7 linked regions of the Homo sapiens genome follow. The protein of the gene in region 1 purifies or fractionates together with the protein of each later gene. This does not show direct contact. Each region holds a gene or a part of one and is shown on either strand. Other genes may lie near its edges. The genes, in order: PHACTR3, AMH, LSM14A, ATP10B, CAPRIN1, RRP12 and KCNK3.

Region 1 (3,500 bases):
GGGGCTGGTGCCCTCCCCTCTGCGATCTCACCTAATCCTCATTGTGCTTCTTCCCAGTTTTCATGAAAGAGGGAACTGCCACCTTTTGGAAGAGGTGTCAGCTGCTGAGACAAGGAGAGCCCGGGCATGAGCTCGGGAGGGCTGGGTCCCAGCCCTTGGCTCTTTTCTGGGGACCTTACTGCCCCTTATGGGGTGAATGTTCAATCTGGAGGGGACTCTTGGGTGGAAAATGCTTTCAGTGGGGCATTTTCCTTGTACACCTAACACGAATTAAGTATTCCAGTCTAACTGATGATTCTCAGCCAGATACCACAGAAACGGAGGAGGTGAGATGCACCCCACAGGGGGCCTCTTTAGCTGGGACTGCAGATGTCCTGGATGGGTTAGATGTGGGGCTGTGGTGCCCTGTGGTTCCCCAAGTAGTATTGGTTTGTGGGAGAATGTGCTGCTGGGTGGGTGGAGGGATGAGTGAGGGGGCGCCCCCGCCACCCCACCACCCTGAGACTTGGCCCCAGCTGTTCTCCCTGACAGAACATTCTCCCTTCCTGCTTTGCCTGGTCAGTACCTTTGCATGCTTGGGACCACAGCTCAAGCTGTTTCTCCTCCAGGGGAGCCAGCCCTGACCCTTGACCTCATAGCACCATGCGCCCCATCTTCCAGCATTTACCACATTGCCCCACCTTGTTTAGTGGGTTGAATGGTGTCACCCCAAAATTCCCATCCACCTGGAACCTCAGAACATGACCTTGTTTGGAATAAGGGTCTCTCAACTGCCATTAAGTTAAAGATCAAGCTGAGCTCATGCTGGATTCGGTTAGGCCCTGAATCCAATGACAGTGTCCATGTGACAGGCAGGACAGGACACACAGGGATGGGACTGATGCATCCACAGAACGCCAAGAATTTTCCGGGGGAGAGGCCTGGGACGGCATCTCCCTCACAGCCTCAGAAGGAACCAACGCTGCCAGCATCTTGATTTCAGACTTCTGGTCTCCAAAACTGTGAGAGTTGTTCTGTTGCTTTGGGCTGCCCAAGGAGCCATACACGCCTTGTCTGTTGGATGGTTTGCCTCTCTCTAACCACCTGCCCCCCAGACAGTAGTCCCTGAGAGACGGCCACACGTCTGTGTTCACTGTCAAATCCAAGTGCAGGCATAGTACAGGGCATACAGCAGGCACTCAGCAAGTGCAGATGATGGTTGGATGGATGAATGAATGAGTGAATGAATGCATGCGTGCTCTGAACCCTGTCTGTCTGCTTTCTGCATCTTTCTACATCTCTGTAGATGAATCCAAATATTCAGTCTTTATGCAACATGGCCACATAAATTACAGTACAAAGTTTGAGGCAAAACTGTGCTACTTTGCATTTTGTTATTGTCTTTGTGATAGCTCCCTTTTTCCTCCATTGAAACCTAAAACCATTTAAAGTCCATTCAATTAGCCACCATCCACCTCATTTTATTCTGGCGAATGTATAATTTGTTCCTGGCCCTCAATAACTTGGTAACCCAGAGAGTTTCCTGCCTCTCCCAAGCTTGGGAAGGTCGAGCCTCAGATGGCACAGGTCTTCATTCTGACTCCACACGCCCTAAATTCTGGCGTTCTGTCCCCAGTCTGCGGACACTTCTGGCTTCCGCCCTGCCCTCAGTTGCAAGGACATCAGGGGATACTCTGACACTTATGCGTTTCCATAGGGACTGAATTGAGACTGGGAGGTGGAGGAGGGTAGTTCCGAGCTATGGGTCCTGGCCTGGCTTCTTCCTGCACAGACTACATTTTGGTGACTTTGATTTAATTTTCTCAGTTCCTCTTTTTCCTTTTCCTTTGGGAAAAGGTTCATGTGCTTCAGCATGTGAACACTAGATGGTAGCAAAGAAGAAAGTCTCCTTACCTGGGCTTCCCTTGCTGCAGGAGGGACCCTGGCCCAACTGAGTCTCCACCCAAGGCAGGACTGCAGGTGTCTTAGTTCATCTGAGTGACTTATAAACCACAGAAATTTATTCGTCACTCTTCTAGAGGCTGGAAGTCCAAGATCAGGGTGCCGGCAGATTTGGTGTCTCTGATGAGGGCTTGCTTCCTGGTTCATAGGCCAAATTCCTGGACTTTCTTGAAAAGTCTTCATCTCTGATCACCCTCTGAGTCACTACAGGCCCATTAAGGTGGGCAGGTTCTCCTCTGTGTGCTGTGGTCCCCACCCTGCCCCCATGGAGAAATTGCAGGAGGTCCTTTGCATTCCTGGGTTTCACCTGCCTGGTCCCTGGAGATGCGTTTACCCCTCTCCCTTTTACCTCTCCTTTACCCCTGCTGTCACCTGGTCCAGTTGGTAACGCTCAACTCTGCGGGATGGGAGTCCCACAGCCTCTGCCAAGTGTAAGTGGAGCTGGGTGCGATGTGCTGTTCTCAGCCCCCACCTTTTCCTGGCAGCCTGCCCCTGAGGTGGCTTCTGAACCTCAGCTTCCTCATCTGTGAAATGGGGGTGACAAGTGGTCCCCTGCACAAGCTGGGTGGGGCGAGCCAGGCAAAGCTCTATGGGGGCCGTGGGGGCAGTGCTGGTTGTCACATCTGTGATTGACAGTGGGGCAGAGACCTGGGTGGGATCCCAGCTCCACCAAGCTGAGCGAGAGCAGGCAAACCACGCTGCCTCAGTTTCCCTATTTGTACAAGAGGGCTAGTGATTCCTTCCTCATGGGGCTGGGGTGAGAAGTAGAGGCAATGATGGTTAGAGACAGAGGGGCTGGGGGATGCTGCGTGTCACCTGCGTGTGCTCAGGAGTGGGGCACTGTCCTGAGCAGGAGCAGCCTGGGGAGGCTGAGGCCAGTGGGGAGAGGACAGCGCAGTGTGCAGAAGCTGGGGATGGGTCTCCCTGCAGCCCCTGCCCTGCCTGGCCACTTCTTGCATGGCTGGCTCCTTGTCATTTCTCAGGTCTCAGCTCAAAGTTTCCCTCTGCAGAGCAGCCTTTCCTGACCTCCCTCTCCCAAACCAGCTACCACCTCCCCCCGACCAGCCCAGTACTCTCAGCCCACCTGCGTGGTGCCCTCTCGCCCCCCTCCCTCCACCACTCTCTCTCCCAGCCCTTTTCTCTCCCTCTCCTTCTGTCTCCTTCTCTATTCTACAATCATCTGCTCTCTTTCTGTCTGCCTGGCCTCTGTCTGTCTCCACCAGCTGACGGCAGGGCCTGGCCCGTTTCCCTGTGGCCTGGCCTTGTGTGGCCAAGCAGGTGCTTGTAGAGAAAGCGAAATAACTAAAGTCCTCCACGAGGTTTACAGTTTCCTTTTGGGTTTTGAGGAATACTTTTTATTGATGCTGTCCACATCCCAGGATTGTATTGGAAGTTTGTTTCTGGTTTTTAGGGAATGGGGTAGTTTAGATCTGGTTGTTTTGCTGGTGGGATTAAAGGGATCTGGTGTTTGCACCAGTCCTGCCAGGACGCTTTTGGAATGAGAGTTTGTGCTGAACACCTAAGAGCTTCTGGGCCTGTGCCAGCTGCTAGGCTCCTGA
Region 2 (4,118 bases), on another chromosome or scaffold:
CAGGGGTCCACCCCCCGGCCCCAGTGGTGCATCCCCCTGCATCTGGGGTCCATCCCCCAGCTCCTGGCGTCCACCCCCCAGCTCCTGGCGTCCATCCCCCAGCCCCTGGGGTCCACCCACCAACCTCTGGGGTCCACCCCCCAGCTCCTGGAGTCCACCCTCCAGCCCCCGGGGTTCACCCACCAGCCCCCGGAGTCCACCCACCAGCCCCTGGGGTTCACCCACCAGCCCCAGGGGTCCATCCTCCCCCATCAGCGGGGGTTCACCCCCAGGCCCCGGGGGTGCACCCAGCAGCCCCCGCCGTTCACCCTCAGGCCCCAGGGGTGCACCCACCAGCCCCAGGGATGCACCCTCAGGCCCCGGGGGTCCACCCCCAACCTCCCGGGGTCCATCCGTCGGCTCCTGGGGTCCACCCTCAGCCTCCGGGAGTTCACCCCTCAAATCCTGGGGTGCACCCCCCAACTCCCATGCCCCCAATGCTGAGGCCCCCACTTCCCTCCGAAGGCCCAGGGAACATACCTCCCCCTCCCCCAACCAACTGAGAAGCTGCTCCCTCCCCCAGCAAGCCCAGCGCCAGGTGCTCTTGCCTTTTCCCACTGAGAGAAGGCTGCTCTTTTGTACTGCCCCCCGCTCATTAAACAGCCTCCCCCAGCCCTGAGTGCACTGATGTCCGCAGCGCCGCCCTACTGTGTCAGTGTGTGTGGGAGTGCCAGGCACAGCACCATCCCCCAGTTTGGGCCGACTGGGGAGGGCCTGGGGCCCGCCAGGAGACACCTGTGGGAGGCCTGAGAGATGGCTGTACCTTGGAGATGGCCTGGTGGAGGACAGACCCCACCAGCCAGCTAGGAGGGGATCTGGGGTCCTGTTCTGGGGAGGGAAGAGCAGACTCCACGATATCCTTGGGGTCTCCAGATAGCCCACCAGGGGTGGGGAGGGTGAGCAGGGACAGGGCGCCCCCACTGACTTGGGACCCTCCTCCTCCAGGCCCACACCTCAGCACCCAGGACATCTGGGCCCCCCGCCCCCAGCGCTGTCTAGTTTGGTTGCCTGGCCGTCACTCCCAGCCTGGTTCCCACTCCTGTGTCTTCTGGGGATGGCCCTCAAGGACGGCATGTTGACACATCAGGCCCAGCTCTATCACTGGGGAGGGAGATAGGCTGCCAGGGACAGAAAGGGCTCTTTGAGAAGGCCACTCTGCCTGGAGTGGGGGCGCCGGGCACTGTCCCCCAAGGTCGCGGCAGAGGAGATAGGGGTCTGTCCTGCACAAACACCCCACCTTCCACTCGGCTCACTTAAGGCAGGCAGCCCAGCCCCTGGCAGCACCCACGATGCGGGACCTGCCTCTCACCAGCCTGGCCCTAGTGCTGTCTGCCCTGGGGGCTCTGCTGGGGACTGAGGCCCTCAGAGCAGAGGAGCCAGCTGTGGGCACCAGTGGCCTCATCTTCCGAGAAGACTTGGACTGGCCTCCAGGCAGCCCACAAGAGCCTCTGTGCCTGGTGGCACTGGGCGGGGACAGCAATGGCAGCAGCTCCCCCCTGCGGGTGGTGGGGGCTCTAAGCGCCTATGAGCAGGCCTTCCTGGGGGCCGTGCAGAGGGCCCGCTGGGGCCCCCGAGACCTGGCCACCTTCGGGGTCTGCAACACCGGTGACAGGCAGGCTGCCTTGCCCTCTCTACGGCGGCTGGGGGCCTGGCTGCGGGACCCTGGGGGGCAGCGCCTGGTGGTCCTACACCTGGAGGAAGGTATGTGGGGCCCAGCCCCAAGCTTGGCACCGCCGTCTTCCTTCAGGTGGGCCGGGTCCTCCTAGGGAAGATCAGGGGCTGGCAGAGCCCCCACCCTGGGCAGGGAGGCTGTGGTCTTGTTCCTAGGACTGGGTTGCGGGTCCGTGGCCTGGAAGGTGGGCACCACACTCTGTCCTGTCCCCGAAGCCCAGCTCTTAGACTTGCCCCTGCCTCGGTGCCAGGGAGAGAGCTGCTGCCTTCTCCCCACCCCTGAAGACGACGCAGGGCTCGGGGCCAGTGGAACCCTTCTTCCCACAGCCCCAGCCTGTTCTCAGGGCCGCTGGCCTAAGATACTCCCTGCGGGGAAGGGGCTTCATCGGGCACCCCAACCCAGAGACCCCAGGGCGGCAGCCCCACCCACAGCCTCAGACGCAGCCCCTGCCTGCCCCTGCCGTCACCGCTCCCTGGCTGCAGGAAGGCAGCTAAGAGGGGCACCCTTGTCCCCCGCTTGAGGTCCCCTGCACAGTGGCCAGAGCGGCAGGGACAGATCCCAAAGATTCCCGGGGGGTGTGGCCTTCAATGGCTCAGGCGTCCCCTGCTGTCCCGGCTGCAGTGACCTGGGAGCCAACACCCTCGCTGAGGTTCCAGGAGCCCCCGCCTGGAGGAGCTGGCCCCCCAGAGCTGGCGCTGCTGGTGCTGTACCCTGGGCCTGGCCCTGAGGTCACTGTGACGAGGGCTGGGCTGCCGGGTGCCCAGGTACCAGGGAGTTGCATGGGGCAGTGCCCGGGCCGTGGCGGGGGGCATGGATTTGTTGCAGGGTCTGCAGTACTGAGAACAGCGTAGAACCAGTGGCGATGGGAGGAAGGGGACCGGTAGAGCGGGGCTGGGTAAGCCTCCATCCAGCCGGGCTGAGCCCTGGTCTCCGCAGAGCCTCTGCCCCTCCCGAGACACCCGCTACCTGGTGTTAGCGGTGGACCGCCCTGCGGGGGCCTGGCGCGGCTCCGGGCTGGCCTTGACCCTGCAGCCCCGCGGAGAGGGTAGGTCCGCGTGGAGAGGGACGGGGAGCCGGGTCGACTGCCCCCGGGCCCCCAGCCCCTGAGCCAGCCGCGTGCCCACCCACCGCAGACTCCCGGCTGAGTACCGCCCGGCTGCAGGCACTGCTGTTCGGCGACGACCACCGCTGCTTCACACGGATGACCCCGGCCCTGCTCCTGCTGCCGCGGTCCGAGCCCGCGCCGCTGCCTGCGCACGGCCAGCTGGACACCGTGCCCTTCCCGCCGCCCAGGTGCGCGCAGGCACCGGGACACGGGGCAGGAGCGGGCGGGGGCGGCGTGGCCTCGTGGCCGCTCTCAACTCCTCCAATTGCGGGTTCCAGGCCATCCGCGGAACTCGAGGAGTCGCCACCCAGCGCAGACCCCTTCCTGGAGACGCTCACGCGCCTGGTGCGGGCGCTGCGGGTCCCCCCGGCCCGGGCCTCCGCGCCGCGCCTGGCCCTGGATCCGGACGCGCTGGCCGGCTTCCCGCAGGGCCTAGTCAACCTGTCGGACCCCGCGGCGCTGGAGCGCCTACTCGACGGCGAGGAGCCGCTGCTGCTGCTGCTGAGGCCCACTGCGGCCACCACCGGGGATCCTGCGCCCCTGCACGACCCCACGTCGGCGCCGTGGGCCACGGCCCTGGCGCGCCGCGTGGCTGCTGAACTGCAAGCGGCGGCTGCCGAGCTGCGAAGCCTCCCGGGTCTGCCTCCGGCCACAGCCCCGCTGCTGGCGCGCCTGCTCGCGCTCTGCCCAGGTGGCCCCGGCGGCCTCGGCGATCCCCTGCGAGCGCTGCTGCTCCTGAAGGCGCTGCAGGGCCTGCGCGTGGAGTGGCGCGGGCGGGATCCGCGCGGGCCGGGTCGGGCACAGCGCAGCGCGGGGGCCACCGCCGCCGACGGGCCGTGCGCGCTGCGCGAGCTCAGCGTAGACCTCCGCGCCGAGCGCTCCGTACTCATCCCCGAGACCTACCAGGCCAACAATTGCCAGGGCGTGTGCGGCTGGCCTCAGTCCGACCGCAACCCGCGCTACGGCAACCACGTGGTGCTGCTGCTGAAGATGCAGGTCCGTGGGGCCGCCCTGGCGCGCCCACCCTGCTGCGTGCCCACCGCCTACGCGGGCAAGCTGCTCATCAGCCTGTCGGAGGAGCGCATCAGCGCGCACCACGTGCCCAACATGGTGGCCACCGAGTGTGGCTGCCGGTGACCCCTGCGCCGCGCGGACTCCTGCCCCGAGGGTCCGGACGCGCCCCAGCTCGCGCCCCTTCCCATATTTATTCGGACCCCAAGCATCGCCCCAATAAAGACCAGCAAGCAACCGGCTGGGGTGTCCGTGCGTGTTAGGGGGCCCGTGGGACCTCCCTTGCCGTCT
Region 3 (3,500 bases), on another chromosome or scaffold:
ATTTTCTAAATAAGGTAGATTATACATTCCCTTTTTAATTTAGAAGAGTTGTAAAATTATAATTTATTTTCCATTAATAAATTTGAAAATATTAATAAAATGAATGATTTTAGAATGTTATATATTACAAAACAGATAAAGAAAATATAAAACCTTATTAAATCAATAATCATAAAAGAAAACTACAGCTCTTAAACAACTGATTCAAAAACAGGATCTGGGCTCAATTTTTTTTTTTTTTTTTTTTTGACAGACTCTCGCTCTGTTGCCCAGGCTGGAGTGCAGTGGTACGATCTTGGCTCACTACAACCTCGCCTCCCGGGTTCAAGTGATTCTCCTGCCTCAGCCTCCCGAGCAGCTGGGACTACAGGCGTGTGCCACCACACCCAGCTAATTTTTCTATTTTTAGTAGAGACAGGGTTTCACCGTATGGCCAGGCTGATCTCAAACTCCTGACCTCGTGACCTGCCCGCCTCGGCGTCCCAAAGTGCTGAGATTACAGGTGTGAGCCACCGTGCCTGGCCTCTGGGCTTAATTTTAATGAGGAAACGTTTCAAACTTGTAACATGAAGAAAATTCCATTCCCAAAGGCATAGAAAACAATGAAAACCAATTTTATAATCCTAACTTGAAACTGACACAAAACATAAAAACCACAAAAGTAGAAGCCATAGGAAAATGTAAATATAAACGAACAAATCCTTCTAGCAGGAAATACTCAAGAACATATTAAAAGATAACTGCCTGGCTGGGTGCGGTGGCTCACGCCTATAATCCCAATACTTCGGGAGGCTGAGGTGGGTGGAAAATAAGGTCAGGAGTTTGAGGCCAGCCTGGCCAACATGGCAAAGCCCTGTTTCTACTAAAAATACAAAAATTAGCTGGGTATGGTGGCACGCGGCTGTAATCCCAGCTACTAGGGAGGCTGAGGCAGGAGAATTACTTGAACCCGGGAGGCGGAGGCTGCCGTGAGCTGAGATCACACCACTGCACTACAGCCTGGGTAACAAGAGTGAAACTCCATCTCAGAAAAAAAAAGGCCTACCACTAAGTAGAATTTTTTTCCAGAAAAGTAAAATTTTTTTTTTTTTGAGACAGAGTCTGGCTCTGTCGCCTAGGCTGGAGTGCAGTGGAGCAATCTCGGCTCACTGCAAGCTCCACCTCCCCAGTTCACGCCATTCTCCTGCCTCAGCCTCCTGAGTAGCTGGGACTACAGGCGCCCGCCACTGCGCCCGGCTAATTTTTTGTATTTTTAGTGGAGACGGGGTTTCACCATGTTAGCCAGGCTGGTCTCGAGCTCCTGACCTCGTGATCCGCCCGCCCCGGCCTCCCAAAGTGCTGGAATTACAGGCGTGAGCCACTGTGCCGGGCCCAGAAAAGTAAAATTTTAAAAAATCTTTTTATTTTAAAGTAATTATAGAAAAGAAAAATTGAAAAACTAGTTCAGAGTCGTCCCTTGTGCCCATCACCCAACTTCCCAAACTCCAACAGTCACATCTTATATAATTATGGTACATTATCGAAACCAAGAAACCGACACAGGCACAATCTAATTAACTAAACTACAGACCTTGCTCAGATGTCACCAGTTTGTACATGTACTCATTTTTTGGTATGTCTTTATGCATAGTTCTATGATGTTCTACCATATATAGATTTGCAAAACTACCACCACAATCAAGATAAAGGACTGTTCTGTCACCACAGTGACACTCCCCTGTGCTCCTCCTTTACAGTCACAACCCCCGCCTTTCATTTTTTTATAGTAATTATGTATCATATATTTAAAATATTCTCCCTGTTGAGAAGCATAGAATATGACTTTTAGATCCAAGAACTTACCTACTTGTCTCTTGTTATCATTTCTGAGTTGCTCATTTTCTGGCCTTGAAACTTTGTGTACTTCAGCTACAGAAGAAGACATGCAAAGTGCCAAATCAACTCAGGGTACATCATCAAAAACTTCCATAGTTAGAAATGCAAACAAACAAACCAAAAAACCCAAAACAAAGCCTGTGCAATGCCCAAAAAACTATACCCACACCACCACCACTTTGAGTCAAATTTGAAAGACCAAACATTCTATCATATTCAGTTTAATTTTCTGGGATCATTCACATGAAGTAAATCCTTCTAATGAAAATAAAGTGAGTGGAAAACATTGATCAGTCAATTAAGGAACAGTAAACAGCTAAAGTTCTACCTCGCCTGTGCTCCTGATTCTCTCCTGCCTTTTGGCTGGCAGATGGCAAAGGCCTGGTTGATACAGGACTCCTTCTCCCAACAGCTGCTGGAGCAGGTAAGTGGGCTGAGGCGGTCTGCACTGCTTGTTCCATGGTTGGGCTTTTTCTCAAAGGGTCTAACTGAGGGCTTGAGCGACCTAAAATGTAACCAAAAGATAACAAACTACCCTATTGGGGATTTCAAAATAATCTAGACCCTAAAAAAAATTGTCCAGAGTTTTATTTCTATCAATTCAAACCCTTAGCACAAATTTGAATTAATCCACTTATCAGACCAGATATTAAGAATGGTATCCTTAGTGGGCTTGTCATTAGGTTAAAAATAAAAAATAATAATAATTTAAAAAAAAACTTCAACAGCTTCAAAACAACTCCCTCCCCCTCACAATTTTATCTGTTATTTCTACTTAGTGGAAGAGTTTACATCAAAAAAAAAAAAAAAAATTGCTGCCAGGTACGAGATTCCCTAGAATTATCCTACAAATTATCATGTTGTAGTCAGGTCAAACACAGGCTTTCGCCAATGACAACCATAAGACTATGGTGACTTGTTTTAATCTTTCTTAGTACTTTCTGTAGATGACTAAAACAATACCTTTACATCTATCTACAGGTATTAACTCCATTAAATTTCTATTATAAGAAAGTAAAGGGCCGGGCGCAGTGGCATATGCCTGTAATCCTAGTCCTTTGGGAGGCTGAAGCAGGAGGATCGCTTGAGCCCAGGATTTCAAGACCAGCCTAGGCAACATGGCGAAACCCTGTCTCTACTGAAAATACAAAAATTAGCCAGGCGTGGTGGCGCGTGCCTGTGTTCCCAGCTACTCAGGAGGCTGAGATGGGATAGCTTGAACCCGGGAGGCAGAAGCTGCAGTGAGCCGAGATTGTGCCACTGCACTCTAGCCTAGGTGACAGAGCAAGGCCCTGTCTCATAAATAAATAAATAAATAAATAAATAAATAAATAAAGTAAAAGAACTACAAAGTTAGATAGGTGAAGTTCTTTAATGCTTTAGGGGCTTGGGTAATTAAACATAAAAACTAAAAGGCCAGCAAAAAAACAAACAAACAAAACCAAAAAACAAACAAAAAAAACCCTTCAGATAATTACACAGTAGCCATACTCATTCCTTGCCTTTTAAAAGATCTCTTGGCAAGTTTTTGCTTAATATGGGGTTTGGCTGGGCGCGGTTGCTCACACCTATAATCCCAGCAATTTGGGAGGCTGAGATGGGCAGATCGCTTGAGCTCAGGAGTT
Region 4 (3,500 bases), on another chromosome or scaffold:
GTGCTATGTAAGGAAGGTAGGTGGTCTAAGGTACTGTTCCCAAACAGCTGTTTGCATGAGAACCGCCTGGGAATTTAATAATTGAGATTCTCAGGTCCAGTTAAAGCCCAGCTGAATCAGGGGACTAGAAGTTTGAATCTTTATTGTTACCTAAGGTGTTTTTAGTTGATCTCTGGATGGCCAACTGACTTTGGAAACTGTTCTCTATTTATCATCTTCTCTATCTTCTACTTGAGGTCTTATATCAAATTAGGTCCCAAGACATCTACAAGCCTGGATCTCATTAGCTAAGTTCCTCATTTCATTTGTTTAGCTGAGCTAGGCCTTCTCTCAATGCAAGAAATACGTTTAGAGAAAACATTCTTTTATGCATTTCCTATGAATGTAGTATGAAAAATATGTGTGTTGCTCAAAGTCCCCTTTGTAAAGTTGTACATAAGTTTCTGTCAGAGGTAATTTGTCTTTTTCTCTTGAAATTCCAGTTCCTTTATCTAATTCTATAATAAGAATTTTTCAGCCAAGGTTGGCTGGTGTGGGGTGGGATTGATGCCATCAGCACTTCCTTTATCTAAACTGCCACAGACATCATTTATCAGTCGCTTGTAAAACTGAGCTAGGCTTCAGAATCATTTTTTACCAGGGCTGGATTGAGATTTTTTAAAGGTCCTAAGATTGAACAGAATTTGTATACCTCACCCATCCTTGTATATAATGCAAAATTAAAAATGTAATTCTTAACAGAAAAGTATAATGAAGTCCAACAAAACTCTGATTTTTCCATGATACTACTCCAAGGCTGTTTTTATATAATATAAAACTTGTTTCAAAGATTATTTTCTCATTTTTCAGGTGTTGCTGGCGCCTTAAGCATAGTCTTCATTTGTGCATCGCCTGATTCGGCACTATTTACAATATTTTATTTTTAAAGACACCAGCTCCTGAGATTAAACCTGTTTGTCTTTTACTTGTAAGCCTTGGAGTTTACCTTCTTGCTAAGGCTGCCAGGAACCTCAGCATCAAATTGAACATTTAAACACCATAAATATTATTAAACCTGAGGTCATTTTCTCCCTCCTTTCAAAGTTTTGCTTCTCAATTCTTATAGTAACATTGTGTGTGTGACTTCTATTGAAGGCATCTCTAATCCATTTTTCAATCAGGTGAGGAGCAAATAAAGAGACATCTCCAGGGCAGCTTGGATGACTGGCTGCTGAGGGATAGAGTGCCGTGGCTCCCTTGACTCAGAAGTACTGAATTCACTTGTCTGCCAGAGTCTGGGAATAAAGAGAACTAATTAGCTCCCTTCCCATTCTACACACTAATCAATCCCCATAAACCTCTTGGCCCTGATCCATGGCTGATAATGCAGGAGGCACAGGGCTGCCTGGGCAATTCTGAAGCTTGGCTGGAATCTACTATCCTGGGAGAATCATAGCCCCATAACTGTCTTCTCCTTGTTAGCAATCAGGAAGCGGCTGCACACTAATTCATGCTGTTCCAAAATTGGACACTGATATGTAGGGACTTTGGAACATTTTTCTGGCTCAGTGCACGTTTATGAAAATCCATCTGGGGGAGGCTGGGGAAAAGGATAATAAAGAGGAACACCTGAGGCTTCCCAGAGTACACCAAGCCCAGTGCAGAATTCTGGCAGCATGAAACAAGCTCTGACCTGGAATTCAGGATACCTGGGTCTGGGATTTAACACTAGTTAACCATGTTACCTCTTGTAAGTCACTTTTCTTTCTAAGTTGAGTGTGCTTTTCTCCAAAATGAAGAGTTAGGACCACAATGTGTTCCATGGTAAGATAATGGATGTTCTAGTGCAAAAGACTGTGTGGATAATCCATGTTTAAATGAGTTTGGAAAACTGGGATGAAGTTAAAGATGTTTATCTGCTACAAGACTGTACAGTCTTTAAATATGCTAATGGACACTGTGATTCCCTAGGTCCAGGAGATGTAAAATGCAGCATGTTTTAAGGATATTTGAGGAAAACATCTTGTAGGTCTGTATTCCAGTTGGGACCTGCCATACCAGGTGACACTACAACTTGAGCTTCTTATTACCATTCCACACTGCTTCTTAAACTATAGAACTCTCTGTGCCTGGAACCCTGGTAAGGCAGGACTCACCGCAGGCTGGGTCTTCCAGCAGGTCCATGATGACCGAGTCAGCACCCTTGGTGTAGACAACAATCTCGCCAGTCAGTGGGTGCCTCACAACCACAGACATTCTCTTCCTGACAGAGTCAAAGCCCAGGGTGCAGAGGAGGCTGAAGGTGAGGCAGGTGCCCTGGGGCAGGCGCACAGTCACCTGCTCAGGTGTCCGGGACACTAGTGTGAAGCTGTAGGCATGGGCAGCGTGCACCAGGGCGGCCTCATCAGGGCTCTCAGCCTCGTAACAGAACTCAGGCCTGGCCAGGTCTGTGGCTGGGGCCTCCAATGCCTCCTCCAAGGAAGTGCCTGACCCAGACTCCAGGATGTCGCCCTGGTCCCACATGCTGCTCCTGTAGCCACCGTCATCAGTGGAGTCACCTCCACTGCACACAGATGCATCATCTCTCTCATCCGAGTCTGTGGTGGCCACGTTGGCCCCTAAGCTCTCCCCGAGGTCTGTGTCAGAGGGTGCAGTGGATGAGAATGACTGGCTGAGGCTCAATAGCTTCAACTTCTGGAAGAGCTGCTGAATCTTCTCCAGGGACGTCCCCAGAGCCTTGCTTGAGGGTTTGATGGTGACCTTGTGGCCAAAGAAGGAAAGTGGAATATTACTCTCAATGTTGGAAATAATACCAAGTTGTCTTATGCGGAATATGAAGGTACTTTTGCAATAAGTGAAGCCAGATATTTTCCTCCAGCCCTGAAATTCTAAGCATTGACAATGGTCATTTTCCACTATCTTTTGATCATCCCACTGTGAGCGTGGAGAAAGGAAGGAAAAGGAGATGAGAATCAGAAACTCATAGTAAGGGTTCACATTTCCTGAACTCTCACTATAAATGCTTCTGCTTTATCTTTGAGTGCGGTATCTCATTTCATCCTCCCAATAATTCTGTGGGATGCTATCATCAACCCAACTTATGGCTGAGGACATTGAGGTACAAAAAGTCTACATAAATTGGCCATGATCACCCAGTGTGTAGGGAGTAGAGTTGGAACTCAAACCCAGGTCTCCTCGACTCCAGAGGCTGGGCTCTTGAGCTACCTGCCAGCTGAAGCTCCCAGCCAGCTGAAGCTCCCACATTAACTTGAAAATTGGGAGGTGCCTACTGTCTTTCCCCAAATGGTACTTCTTCCCCTCTTAAAAATGAATTAATTTTTAAGATAAAGCTTTCTGCCTCCAAAAACTTCCTGAAGACTTCTGATAACATGCTGACTTTTCAGTGCTGAAGTGATTTTCAGGGTGGTTTGGAATCTGGGCATAATGAAGGGAGGTTGTGGTTTAGTGCCTGGGTGAAACTTCTTGTCTTGGTTTCATAGTTGCAAGTTGTACCACCTAAT
Region 5 (3,500 bases), on another chromosome or scaffold:
CAAAAAATAATTTGAACTAGTAAAAGGTCATTAGAACCTCCTTTTTTATTTTTTTACCTCTGAATCCATTGGCAGGGCCCCGGTATCCATTCATCAAGCCTCTAGCACCACGGGAGCCTCCACGAGACACACCACGACTATTGTAATAGGGCTGATTGCTACGTGGAAATCCAGTGTTCTGCTGAGGAGGCTGCTGGTGGTTACCAGTCACTTGATGGGACTGGTCTGGGGAACCATGGTAAGTGCCAACCACTATAATTTAAAAAAGAAAAAGATATATACATAAACAGCTCATTACCGTTTGTTCTCCCACGCACTTTCTAGTTTAAGAAGTGTCTTATACAGTCTCCTTAAAGTTTAATCCTTAAATTTGCATACAATGATAAGAAAAACTACACATGAATAAAGTCTCTTACCTTTCTCCTACCCTTAGACTCAGCTATTGGGGGTAAAATTCTCCAACCACAATTCCAAACCTTTGAAAGCAGGGTGCATGATTGATCCTTCCAAACAAATTATTTGAAAGGCTATATTAACGTCTTCTGAAAGGCATCTACTTTTTAGCACAAGAGACCCAAAATAACTCAAAAGATTTACTCTTAGTACATTACCATTTTGTACCATTTAATTACTTCTTTTCATTATAAAGCTCCTTAGTGGTAGAAGTTTTCTTATTCTTTTAAATATCCTTTTTTTTACTTAGTAAAACATACAAAACCACTCTCTCATATTTAAGCAGCTAGATGGTAGAATATGTCATCAACTACATAGTTTAATCAGCAGAGGCCTTCGACTTGTAGCCCTTAATGCCAAATTCCATTTCAAAGTATTTAAAATGGCAAGTATAGCCAATTTAGAAAACAATCACATGGTACTCACATTGGCACTCAACCCACTTGAAGGTTCTAGACTAAGGTACACACTAACATATATACAAGCTCCATCCACAATGGACAGAGTTCTAGAATCTAGAAATTTTCAAAAATTCAATACTACAGAACAATGTTTATAATTCAAAGAGGAGAAAAAAATAGGGTGCTAAAAGTACCTTTGGGAGGTGAGGAAGGCAACAGAACAAAGGAAGGCCCACACACTAACAACAAGGGTCAGAAGCTGCTGGCCAACCCAAATCTCCCCTTTTGGGGCAGAGAGAAAAGCAGCTGTATGACTCTTGAAAATCTTTACTTGACCTATTTTACACCCTTAAGAAACTCCAAATACATTAATAGTTGTTAGAATCCTATTTTACGATGAAAGCACTAGGGAATACCTAGAGAAAAAGAGAGAGCCACTGCTCCTCTTGAATTACTTAGTAAACCAACTACATCGGTGTCATCTTTTTACATAGATTGCCTTTTATTATATTCCCAAAATTTAAAATTGTAAGTGAATGACAAATACACATAACATTTTCCTTGTAAAATGGTTCATGTGTATCCATGTACAAAGTAGCCAAAAGAACTGAATTTTAGAATCATTTTATCAATAACAGCTTTTAATCTTGATCAAATCTCACTGTAAGAAATTCATAGCCAGGCTGGGTGTAGTGGCTCACACTGGTAATCCCAGCACTTTGGGAGGCCAAGCTGAGCAGATTACTTGAGCTCAGGAGTTTGAGACCAGCTGGGCAACACAGTGAGACCCCATCTCAACAACAACAACAACAACAAAATACAAAAAATTAGCCAGGCATGGTGGTGCATGCCTGTGGTCCCAGCTACTTGGGAGGCTGAGGTGAGAGGATGGCTTAAGCCTGGAAGGAAGAAGTTGTAGTGAGCCGAGATCGTACCACTGCACTCCAGCCTGGGAGACAAGAGCAAGACTCTGTCTCAAAAAATGAAAGGAAAAAGGAAAGGAAAGAAAGGAAGAAACTCACAGCATAATAACTTAAGTGTGATCTTTATTTTATTTAATTTTCACTTTTAAGACAAGGTCTAGCTCTCTCACCCAGTACTGCTGAGGTTGGAGTTCAGTCAAATAATCTTGGCTCACTGCAACCTTGAACTCCTGGGCTCAAGTGATCCTCCGGCCTTAGCCTCCTGAGTAGCTACAACTACAGGCATTCACCACCTCACCCTGCTAATTTCTGTATTTATTTTATAGAGGTGGGGCTCTGTGTTGCCCAGGCTGGTCTCAAACTCCTGGTCTCAAGTGGGCCTCCCAAAGAGCTGGGATTACAGGCGTGAGCCACCACACCCAGCCTTCATTTTATTTTAAAATACCCAAATTCCTACTTAAATTTTGGTAAAGTATAAACTTGTAGGCCATTTTAAAAAGCCAAAGATTCTGTCATGTTGTTCCTGATTAGACACTAATTCAAAATAAAATTTCTAAAATGATGGGACATACTGAAATGATTTCTTCAACAAATATCAGGCCGGGAATGGTGGCTCACGCCTGTAATCCCAGCACTTTGGAAGGCCGAGGCGGGTGGATCACCTGAGGCCTGAGGCAGGAGGCCGAGGCAGGAGAATCGCTTGAACCCAAGCGATTGAACCTAAGAGGCGGAGGTTGCAGTGAGCCGAGACTGCATCACTGCACTGGACAACGGCCCACAATGTATACATATTATTTCATCATGAACGCCTGGCCTCAAGCAATCCTGCCACCTCAGCCTCAAATGTAGCTGGGATTATAGGTGCCAGCCATGAAGCCCGCCCACAACGGACACACATTTCAACACATCATGCTGTATACCATAAATACACATATATATAGTTTCTACTTCTCAATTAAAAATAAACAAATGAACTTTTTTTAAAAAAATAGAAAAAGCAATCCATGTACTTATCAGTGGGAGAAAGTTTTCGGCAAGAAGGAAAGTAAGTATGAAGGCCCTGAGATTAAAGAGAACTTGCTGCGTATGTGACTGGTGTTCGAGACCAGCCTGGACAATATGGTGAAACCCTCTCTCTACTAAAAATACAAAAAAAAAAAAAATTAGCCAGGCATGGTGGCCTGTGCTACTTGGGAGACTGAGGTAGGAGGATCCCTTGAACCCAGAAGCAGAGGTTACAGTGAGCCATGGTGATCACACCACTAGTTTTTATCATTTGGAAGCTGAGCATAGTATAACTGATAACTTCTATCAGAGTATGGAAGATTCGAGCTTCATATTAGTGATACTGAATACTACAGGATGTGTAAGAATTTACTACTGAAAAATCTAATGCTGATCCAAGTTTACCAAGAAATTGAATAATTAGAAAATTTTACAACTTTTCAAAATCGGGCTGACAAAATGAAAGTATTAACTCCTCTGACTGCTGGTTTGTTGTGGGATTCCAATTAAATTCTGAGGAATTAAAGAACTAAAGAAGACATCATGGTGGCTCATGCCTATAAGGTAGAGGTGGGAGGACTGCTGGAGGCCCTGAGTTTGAGAAAAGCCTGCAGTCCAAGCTACTTGTGGGGAGTTAAAGGCTCCAGTACAGGATTTGAGCCCCAGAGTTAAAGGCTCCAGTATCTGATTACACCACTGCACTCCAACCTGGGCAACA
Region 6 (3,500 bases), on another chromosome or scaffold:
GAGGAGCAGCCTGCCCAGGGCCAGGGCACAGAGCTCTCCCCACCTTTTTTGAGGGGTGCTTCCCCCCACCCAGTCTATGAGCAGAGTGTCCACCCCCAGCCCCCTGGGCCTCACCTTCCTGGTTCGAGCCAAACCTTAGGAAAGCATGGCCCATCTCCACGAGCAGTGCAAAAGCGTTCTTCCGTGCGCCCACCGACACCTCCTTGGTGCACAGGATCACCTGGCCAAGACAACTCCATCAGCATCTGCTCCCTGAGCCATCTGCCCGGGAAGCGAATCGAGTCCTCCCACTCCCATCACTGCCCTCCCTGGATCCTGAGGCCCTTAAGAGCCACATTCCAGGGACCCCCCTCTAAAACACACCCGCACACTCACCTCTGGGATGAGGGCAGTGATGAACTCCTTGTGTTCAGCTGAGAGCTTCCTCACGATGTGTAGGAGGCACTTCAAACGGGGCTGTGGGCAAAGGGCTACCAGTCAGGACCCCTCAATGCTACCTCCACCCAACAAGCCTCAACAGTGGCTCCTTTCCTGGTGTTGCCCAGGCTCCCTCGGCAGAGCGGGTGGCCCTAGAGCCCTCACCCTCTTGGCGGGTGAGGAGGTGCTCCGCAGCGAGTCCAGCAGTGTCTTCTTCAGGTCCTCCAGGTGGCTCTGCACGAAGAGGGCCCCGGGGCCCTGAGGACTGGCACACACCTCCTCCAGCACTCGGTAGGCCTTCTTCTGCACCCCGTGGGCCTTGCTCTGGCAGACAGGAACCGGTGAGGGAGGCCTGGGGCTCACTCCCTGTCCAATGCTATCCACGGAGCATCCCCCAGCACTGGAGGGATTCTGAGCAGGGGTCCGTGGGGGCTCATGTGGCTTGACAGAGGACCAGTGGAATGTGGACAGCGAGTGGCTAACTCCTGGGCGAGGCACAGGGGTTGGGGGTGTGTGCCGTGGGGCCCACCAATCCACTCCACTCACCCAGCTCTGGACAGTGCTCACTCCAGTGGCCTGAGCTCATGGTGCCTGGCACGCGCCAAGGCCTGCACATCTGCTGCTCTTTCTAGCCGGAGCACTCTTCTCTCTCCTTCCAAGACTGACAACTCCTTGCTCCTCCAAACCAGCTCTCTGTCACACTCCCCCAACCCCCAACGCCGGACACCTTTCCTGAGGTGACGTGGCCTGGCCCTGGATTTCCATGTCCACCTGCAGTGCTGCCCCAGAGCACTTCTCACACTGTTAGGTAACTGCTACTAAACTGTGGCAATGGGGGCAGCTTTCAGGGGGTCACTGCTGGGCTGAGATCTGCAGGGTTGCTGGCCACAGCAGAGGGCATTTCAAGCTGAGGACCCAAACCCTGCAAAGGCACAGACAGGGCCTGTTATATCAGGGAGGCTTAAGGCAGCTGAAGGAGGCTGCAGCAGAAGTAGAGAGTGGACTGGGTGGGATAAAGCTCAGGCCGGTCTGGGATGGGCCTGGGGAGTGAGCCAGGCAAAGGAGCATGGCCTTGGTTCTACAAGAGTCACTCAGCACGCAAGGCCTAAGCACAGCTGTGCATTTCAGTCCCTTTGGGACCTGCAAGACAGATGGGCTACACAGGACACAAAGAGAAGCCACTGCAGGAGAAAGCAGACAGGGACCTGATCTCGGGAAGCAGCAAGGGACAAAGACATGAAGACAGGCCCCACCTTCCCACAGCCCATCTGCCCCCAAGCGTGGCTGTGTGGCGCTCCTGGCCCCCGAGGCTCACCTCTAGGTAGGGCCGGATGGTGGAGTATAGCTTACTGATGGCAGCTTCGTCAGCACACGGAGCCAAGGCCACGACCAGGTCCAGGACAGACAATCTGCTCGGGGCAGGAGGACAAGGAGAGGGATGGGGAGCTGGAGAAGGGCGCAGACTACCAGTGTTCTTACGTCTACTGGGTATGGGGAGGTGGGAGAAGTCAGGGTGAGGACAAGGGGCTTGAAGGAGCTCATGAACAATAATAATAGCTAGTACCTAACTGAGCATTCATGATGTACCAGTCACCGTTCCTGGTGTTTTACACCTGCTAACTCCTTCAATCCTCATAGCAACCTTGTTGCAAGAACTATTATCGTGCCCATTTTACAGATGAGGCCTTAGAGGCAGAATGGATAAGTAATTTGTCCAAGGTCACACAGCCCATGAGTGACGGGGCTGGGATCAGAACCTGGGCAGTGTATCTCCTGGGTCCTTGTTCCTCCCTACCAGACTAAATGGCCTCTCCAGGAAGAAGGAACTAGTCAGCACAGCCTCTCAGCACAGCCTGGAGAGTTAATACTTCAAGGCTTCCTTAAATAATGCAAGAGGGAACCCACAGTGCTTCTGCCAGATGCACCCTCCAGCTCCCTGGGCTGCTCCAGCTCAAGTGGGAGGCCCTGAGCATGTTACCTGGTAAAGTCAGAGCTGGCAGGGTCGAGCACCTTCTCACTGGCTTTTTCCAGGAGACTGTTCACCAACTTGTGGCCCCGAGGGAATGAGGAGAAGAGAGTCATTGGGGAGGAGCGAAAGAAAGCAGCAATGGCAGCAGTCCCAGAGCGGCCTCCCCATCAGCCCCCAGCCCTGCCCAAGCCATGACTGCTGGTATGTGCTCCAAAACACAGAGACCCACGTGAGCCCTGGTGGGTAGGGTCTCGGCCTCTCTGACCCTGCCCACCTGAGAGCTCCCCTCCTCCCTCCTTCCCTCCCTTCCGTGGCTCACCTGAGTGTCAGTGATGGTGAGGTAAGTTCTGATGGTTTCCAGCACAGCCCGGCGAGGGGCTGGAGTGTCCCCGGCTGCCACGGGCTGCCCATACAGGTTGAAGAGGATCGGCAGAAAGTTCTTGGCAAAGCGACTCACTTCAGCACGGTCAGCCTCTGGTAAAAGGATCAAAGTTTGCACTAAAGGCACAGGAGCTGACTGTGCCTCAGTGGCTGCTGGGGCTGTGGCCCAGAGGCCCTCTCTTGGGGGAGCTGGCAGGACTTGGAATCCATGGGTTTGGGGCTCTCTGTGGCAGAAGCTGAGCCAGGGCATGGAGAGCCTGGTGCCCCAGTGGCCCATGGTCCTCGATGGCTCCAACCCCAGGGAGCCAGCAAAGTTATCCCCTGGGGTCTGCAGCAGAAGCAGCAAAGGATGAGCTCCAGAGGTGAGTTTCTGTGGCTCTGCCTGGCAAGGAGTGTAGCAAGCCAGGGGATGGGGCCAGGGACCTGTGTCATCCTCCCCAGCCCCCACTCCCACAGCCCACACGTACCTGCCTGGCAGCCCTTGGTGATGAGGGTGCGCAGGGCCTGGCACACGGTGACCCTCAGGTCTGGACGCTCGCTGATGGCCATGCCCAGCGTCCGTGCCAGCCCTTTGAAGGAGATGGCCACATCTGTAGGCCTTGTGCAGAACCCAGGCAGGAGTGTCCACATCTGGAGAAGGAGGGGACAATAAAGGAAGGTGACACGCAGCCACCTGTGCCCCTGTGTGCTTCTCCCCACGCCCTCCCCCAGCTGACCCTTACCTGCCACTGGA
Region 7 (4,282 bases), on another chromosome or scaffold:
GTCCGGCAGTGACAGGTCAGCCCAGCCTGTGGGTAGACAGTGCTCCAGCTTCTGGCTGACTGCCTCCTGAGTCTGCTCTCAGTCAGGGGCCTTGGTGTCTCTTCCCTGTCTCTCTGCCTGGCCCATGCCAGGGTCCTGTGAAGGACTTTTTAACCCTTCTTGGCACTGAGATTTGCATTCCAATCATTCTGCTCACTCAGCCCATCCAAGTCTGGAGTTGTTTAGAGCTGGGCAAGGCCTGTGGGATCATCTGCTACGACACCTCGTTGAAAAGATAAGGAAACAAGGCTCTGAGAGGGTCAGTAATGCCTGAGTTTCCACTACCCTTCCCACCTCACCACCATAGCCACCATGTTTGACAAATGAAGAAACTGAGGCATAGGGACCCCCTCTCCTGCCCCAGTTCCCGCAGTCTGCCAGTGAGCCTCCTGCTCTGGGCCCCACCTGCCCAATTCCAGCTAGATCCCGGTTCTGCTGGGATGCCCTAAGGTGGTGGCAGGTGCTATCTCTGGCAACTCAGCCTAAGCCCAGCCTGGTGCACGGGTGCAAGACAGGAACCATGGGAGTCGGGACAGCCTAGAAGCCCCTGGGAGCGAAGCAGGAGGCCTAGACTCCCAGCCTGTGCCTTCTCAGCCAGTTCCAAGAACTGTGCTGACCTGGGAAGGCACACATTGCCTGAGAACAGGGCTTTCCCTTGGGTGTCAGCTCATGTGTGCCCAGGTCCACAGCTGGGCCCTGCCTGCTTCCAAGACAGCCAGAGTCTGGCCCAAGGGAGGAAGGAGTGTGGCCTGGGAGGAAGGAACGCTTGGCTGAGTCCCAGTGCTGTCACGAAATCACTGCGTGCCCATGCGTGTCACTTGACCTCTCTGGGCCTCCATTTCCTCATCCATAGGATAAGGGCAGGACAGCGAGGCCCCAAGTGCCTCCTGGCTGCAATATGCTGTGATGAGGGTGGAGGGTGGGGTGGGGAGGGGCTCGCTCTGCCTTCCTTGCCTTCCTGTCTGTTTCTCTGTCATTAGTTTATCTCCAGCAATCCAGGCCTCTCTGTCTCAGTCTGTTGCTCTCTCTGTTTCCATCTTTTGCTCTGTATTTTTCTGCCCGCCTCTCTTCTTTTTCTGTCTGAGTGCACCTCTGATTTTATCTCCTCCTCTGTCACACAGCCCCCTTCCCTCAGTCCTACACTGCCTTTCTCCCATTCTCCGTAGTTATCAGCGTTTCGCTGTCTAGTTTTCTCTGTCTCTCGGGCTCGCTCTCTCTCTCTTTCTCTCTCTCTGTCCTGCCCGGGCTCTCTCGCGGCCGCCCCTCCCGTCCCCTCCGCCAGCCCCCCTCCTCCCTCCTCGGCGCGTCTCCCCAGTCCTTATTTGGCTGGGCGGGAGGGCTGGCGGGAGGAGGCGGCCTGCGGGCGGGGGGCGGGGGGCGGGCGCGGGGCCGGGCGGAGGAGGGCGGTGGGTGGTGCTGAAGGGACAGCTCCGCGGCGGCGGCGGCGGCGGCGGCCCCGGGCGCTGAGCGGGTGCCCGGCGCGGAGAGCGGCGAGCGCAGCCATGCCCCAGGCCGCCTCCGGGGCAGCAGCAGCGGCGGCCGGGGCCGAGGCGCGGGCCGGGGGCGCCGGGGGGCCGGCGGCGGCCCGGGCGGGACGATGAAGCGGCAGAACGTGCGCACGCTGGCGCTCATCGTGTGCACCTTCACCTACCTGCTGGTGGGCGCCGCGGTCTTCGACGCGCTGGAGTCGGAGCCCGAGCTGATCGAGCGGCAGCGGCTGGAGCTGCGGCAGCAGGAGCTGCGGGCGCGCTACAACCTCAGCCAGGGCGGCTACGAGGAGCTGGAGCGCGTCGTGCTGCGCCTCAAGCCGCACAAGGCCGGCGTGCAGTGGCGCTTCGCCGGCTCCTTCTACTTCGCCATCACCGTCATCACCACCATCGGTAACGGCTCGCCGGGCGGGGGGCGGGAACCCAGGGCTGGGCGCGGGGCTCCGGGAGTCGTCCGGGGCCGGCTGGGGCTGGGGGCGGGGGCTCCCCCGAGAGGGGCTGGGCGCCGAACCCTGCGCTCGCAGAAACCCGAGTTCAGCCTGGCGTGTGTGCTCCGCGGGGACGGAACTCGGGGAGGCGTCGATTCCTGGCTCCGGACCTGACTCTCCGGCCGGGCCAGCCCTAACTTGGCCCTGCCATGTTGCATAGGCCCCCAGGGACTCCGAAGTGTGTGAGAGGGGCAGGGACGACCGGCGGAGGCTCGGGCAGGAGGGGTGTGGCCGGGCCAGGCCCTGAACAGGGCGCTGAGAGTGAGCGGCGGGAGAGCGCCAGTGCTCCGTATCCCTGAGGATCGGCTTCCACAGCCTAGCAGGTCTACACCTGCTGGGCTCTGGGGAGGCATGAGGATGTCGGAATGCGGCACTTCGGGGCACTTGGGGCCACCCTATAACGGCGGCTGTGAGTGTACGTGTGTCTGCGTGTTTCAGCTCCAGGAGTTTGGTCGCCACCAGTCAGTGCCTGTGATTTTCTCAGAGCGGCAGAATTGGTGCGGGAAGCCAGATCTGGCCTTGTCAGCCTTCTTCTCTGCTGTCCCAGCAAAACAGTCACCTCACAGGAATAACCCCAGTTCTTTCCAAGCCAGGGCAGATCACCATGTAGGAGGCCACACGTACACCCAGACTGTCAGACAACACAGGCATAGGCACACATGCACACAGATACACACAGGCACTCACAGGGTACACACAGGGCGGGCACACACACACACACACACAGAGAGAGAGACAGAGAGAGAGAGAGAGAACAAACGTTGCCCAGGAAAGGAATCTCTAGCCAGGCCCTTGGTGGTGCTATTCAAAACTGTCCAGACGGGAATAACACCTTACCTGTCCCCAACACCCTATGATTTCAGCCCAGCTCCATCACTACCGTGATATATGACCTTGGGCAAGTCCCTTCCCCTGTCTGGGTCTCAGGCTCACCTCCAGACAAGGAGGGGTGGCCAAAATGATCTCAAGAGCTCCTCCCCAGCCCCGACGTGCTTGGATTCTGAGATGAAACCCACCTTCCCCCAAAGCCCATTGAGATGCCTCCAGAAGCAGTTTCCTCTGTCTTTACTGTTCCCTCTCCTCTCCCTAGTCCCCTTCCCTGCCTTGATCAGACTCCCAGGGGTTCGTTGCCACTTAGCGCAGCCCATGAAGATGGCATTGTTTTCCTGGGAGTCAACAGGAGCTGAGGGAGTAAAAGGCAGGACTAGACACTCTTCCTGCGGTCTATCCACTGCAGGACACTGTTCCAAGAATCTACGGCTCCCTGGGGACCATGGGGAGCTATGCTGTGTCGTTTCTGGATTCTTCTCTTGGAAGAGGGAGGAAAGGGCCCTGGGAGTGGATGTGGCCCAGCTGGGGCACCTCTGGGTCCTACTGGTCCTGTGAGTTTAGGATAGGATGATCAGACTTAGGTCTGCCCAAAGAGGAGCCCGCTTCCTGAAAAACACCAGCCCAGATTTGGTCTGCAGTCTCTTCCACTCTCACACCCCACTACTATTTGCCAGGGTTTCAGTAGCTGTTTAGCTGTCTGGAGAATCAAAAGAATCAGACTGAACATCTTTGGACCCTCTCTCTCCCTCTTTTCCACACGTCAAGCCTTCACGCGTGTCCCCTTTCCTTCTCAGGCCCATGGTCCCCAGCTTCATAGTAACCTCCCAACTGACCTCCCTGCCTACCCCACAACAAGGCATGCTCCCCTGGACAATGCTGCCAGAAAGAAAAACTCAGCTGTCACCAAACCAATTCCCTTCTTGGAATCCCTCAATGACTCTCCACTGTCCATGGAATCTGGTCTATGCTCCTTATCTCAAATTTTGAGGATCTCCATACCTGGCTCCAACCTCTATGTCTGACTTCACATCTCACTTCTTACTTATGTGATCCCTCTCGATAGCTGCCAACCTGTCCTCTGAGAATACCTTAAGTATGCCTGTCTGGCATGCCTTTTTCTCTGCCCTTTTTCTTTTCTTTTTTCTTTTTTTGAGAGAAAGAGTCTCACTCTGTCTCACCCAGGCTGGAATGCAGTGGTGTAATCATAGTTCAGCACAACCTCAAACCCCTGGCCTCAAGCGATCCTCTCACCTGGGCCTCCCAAAGTGCTGGGATTACAGGTGTGAGCCACTGCGCCTGGCTCTACCTTCTATTTATCTTGTCCATGCTAACCTTCCAGGTCCAGCTCAAATCCCCCCTCCTCCTCAAAGCCTCCCAGGCCACTGCTCTGGACAACTGCAGGTCTCACTGTGAGGATGATCTGGGTGACACGCTGTT

What was found.
Region 2: the proteins of PHACTR3 (region 1) and AMH purify together in Homo sapiens (affinity purification with mass spectrometry; one large-scale study listed by BioGRID and IntAct). This does not show direct contact.
Region 3: the proteins of PHACTR3 (region 1) and LSM14A purify together in Homo sapiens (affinity purification with mass spectrometry; one large-scale study listed by BioGRID and IntAct). This does not show direct contact.
Region 4: the proteins of PHACTR3 (region 1) and ATP10B purify together in Homo sapiens (affinity purification with mass spectrometry; one large-scale study listed by BioGRID and IntAct). This does not show direct contact.
Region 5: the proteins of PHACTR3 (region 1) and CAPRIN1 purify together in Homo sapiens (affinity purification with mass spectrometry; one large-scale study listed by BioGRID and IntAct). This does not show direct contact.
Region 6: the proteins of PHACTR3 (region 1) and RRP12 purify together in Homo sapiens (affinity purification with mass spectrometry; one large-scale study listed by BioGRID and IntAct). This does not show direct contact.
Region 7: the proteins of PHACTR3 (region 1) and KCNK3 purify together in Homo sapiens (affinity purification with mass spectrometry; one large-scale study listed by BioGRID and IntAct). This does not show direct contact.

Annotation. Positions count from the first base shown.
Region 1 is NC_000020.11:59,768,540-59,772,039, forward strand, and holds part of PHACTR3 (phosphatase and actin regulator 3), read left to right. Parts: intron 1-3,500.
Region 2 is NC_000019.10:2,248,005-2,252,122, forward strand, and holds AMH (muellerian-inhibiting factor preproprotein), read left to right. Parts: upstream 1-1,318; 5' UTR 1,319-1,328; coding exon 1,329-1,740; intron 1,741-2,332; coding exon 2,333-2,475; intron 2,476-2,634; exon of another isoform or gene 2,635-2,647; coding exon 2,648-2,756; intron 2,757-2,844; coding exon 2,845-3,004; intron 3,005-3,094; coding exon 3,095-3,953; 3' UTR 3,954-4,069; downstream 4,070-4,118. Other genes in the region: SF3A2 (splicing factor 3A subunit 2), read left to right, coding at 1-542. UniProt on the Homo sapiens protein: Plays an important role in several reproductive functions. Induces Muellerian duct regression during male fetal sexual differentiation. Also plays a role in Leydig cell differentiation and function.
Region 3 is NC_000019.10:34,214,004-34,217,503, reverse strand, and holds part of LSM14A (protein LSM14 homolog A), read right to left. Parts: intron 2,381-3,500; coding exon 2,204-2,380; intron 1,909-2,203; coding exon 1,843-1,908; intron 1-1,842. UniProt on the Homo sapiens protein: Essential for formation of P-bodies, cytoplasmic structures that provide storage sites for translationally inactive mRNAs and protect them from degradation. Acts as a repressor of mRNA translation. May play a role in mitotic spindle assembly.
Region 4 is NC_000005.10:160,618,212-160,621,711, forward strand, and holds part of ATP10B (phospholipid-transporting ATPase VB), read right to left. Parts: intron 2,740-3,500; coding exon 2,136-2,739; intron 1-2,135. UniProt on the Homo sapiens protein: Catalytic component of a P4-ATPase flippase complex, which catalyzes the hydrolysis of ATP coupled to the transport of glucosylceramide (GlcCer) from the outer to the inner leaflet of lysosome membranes.
Region 5 is NC_000011.10:34,093,231-34,096,730, reverse strand, and holds part of CAPRIN1 (caprin-1), read right to left. Parts: intron 253-3,500; coding exon 58-252; intron 1-57. UniProt on the Homo sapiens protein: mRNA-binding protein that acts as a regulator of mRNAs transport, translation and/or stability, and which is involved in neurogenesis, synaptic plasticity in neurons and cell proliferation and migration in multiple cell types.
Region 6 is NC_000010.11:97,370,341-97,373,840, forward strand, and holds part of RRP12 (RRP12-like protein), read right to left. Parts: coding exon 3,490-3,500; intron 3,398-3,489; coding exon 3,235-3,397; intron 2,861-3,234; coding exon 2,706-2,860; intron 2,464-2,705; coding exon 2,396-2,463; intron 1,827-2,395; coding exon 1,733-1,826; intron 742-1,732; coding exon 583-741; intron 457-582; coding exon 376-456; intron 221-375; coding exon 115-220; intron 1-114.
Region 7 is NC_000002.12:26,691,240-26,695,521, forward strand, and holds the start of KCNK3 (potassium channel subfamily K member 3), read left to right. Parts: upstream 1-1,482; 5' UTR 1,483-1,636; coding exon 1,637-1,919; intron 1,920-4,282. UniProt on the Homo sapiens protein: K(+) channel that conducts voltage-dependent outward rectifying currents upon membrane depolarization. Voltage sensing is coupled to K(+) electrochemical gradient in an 'ion flux gating' mode where outward but not inward ion flow opens the gate.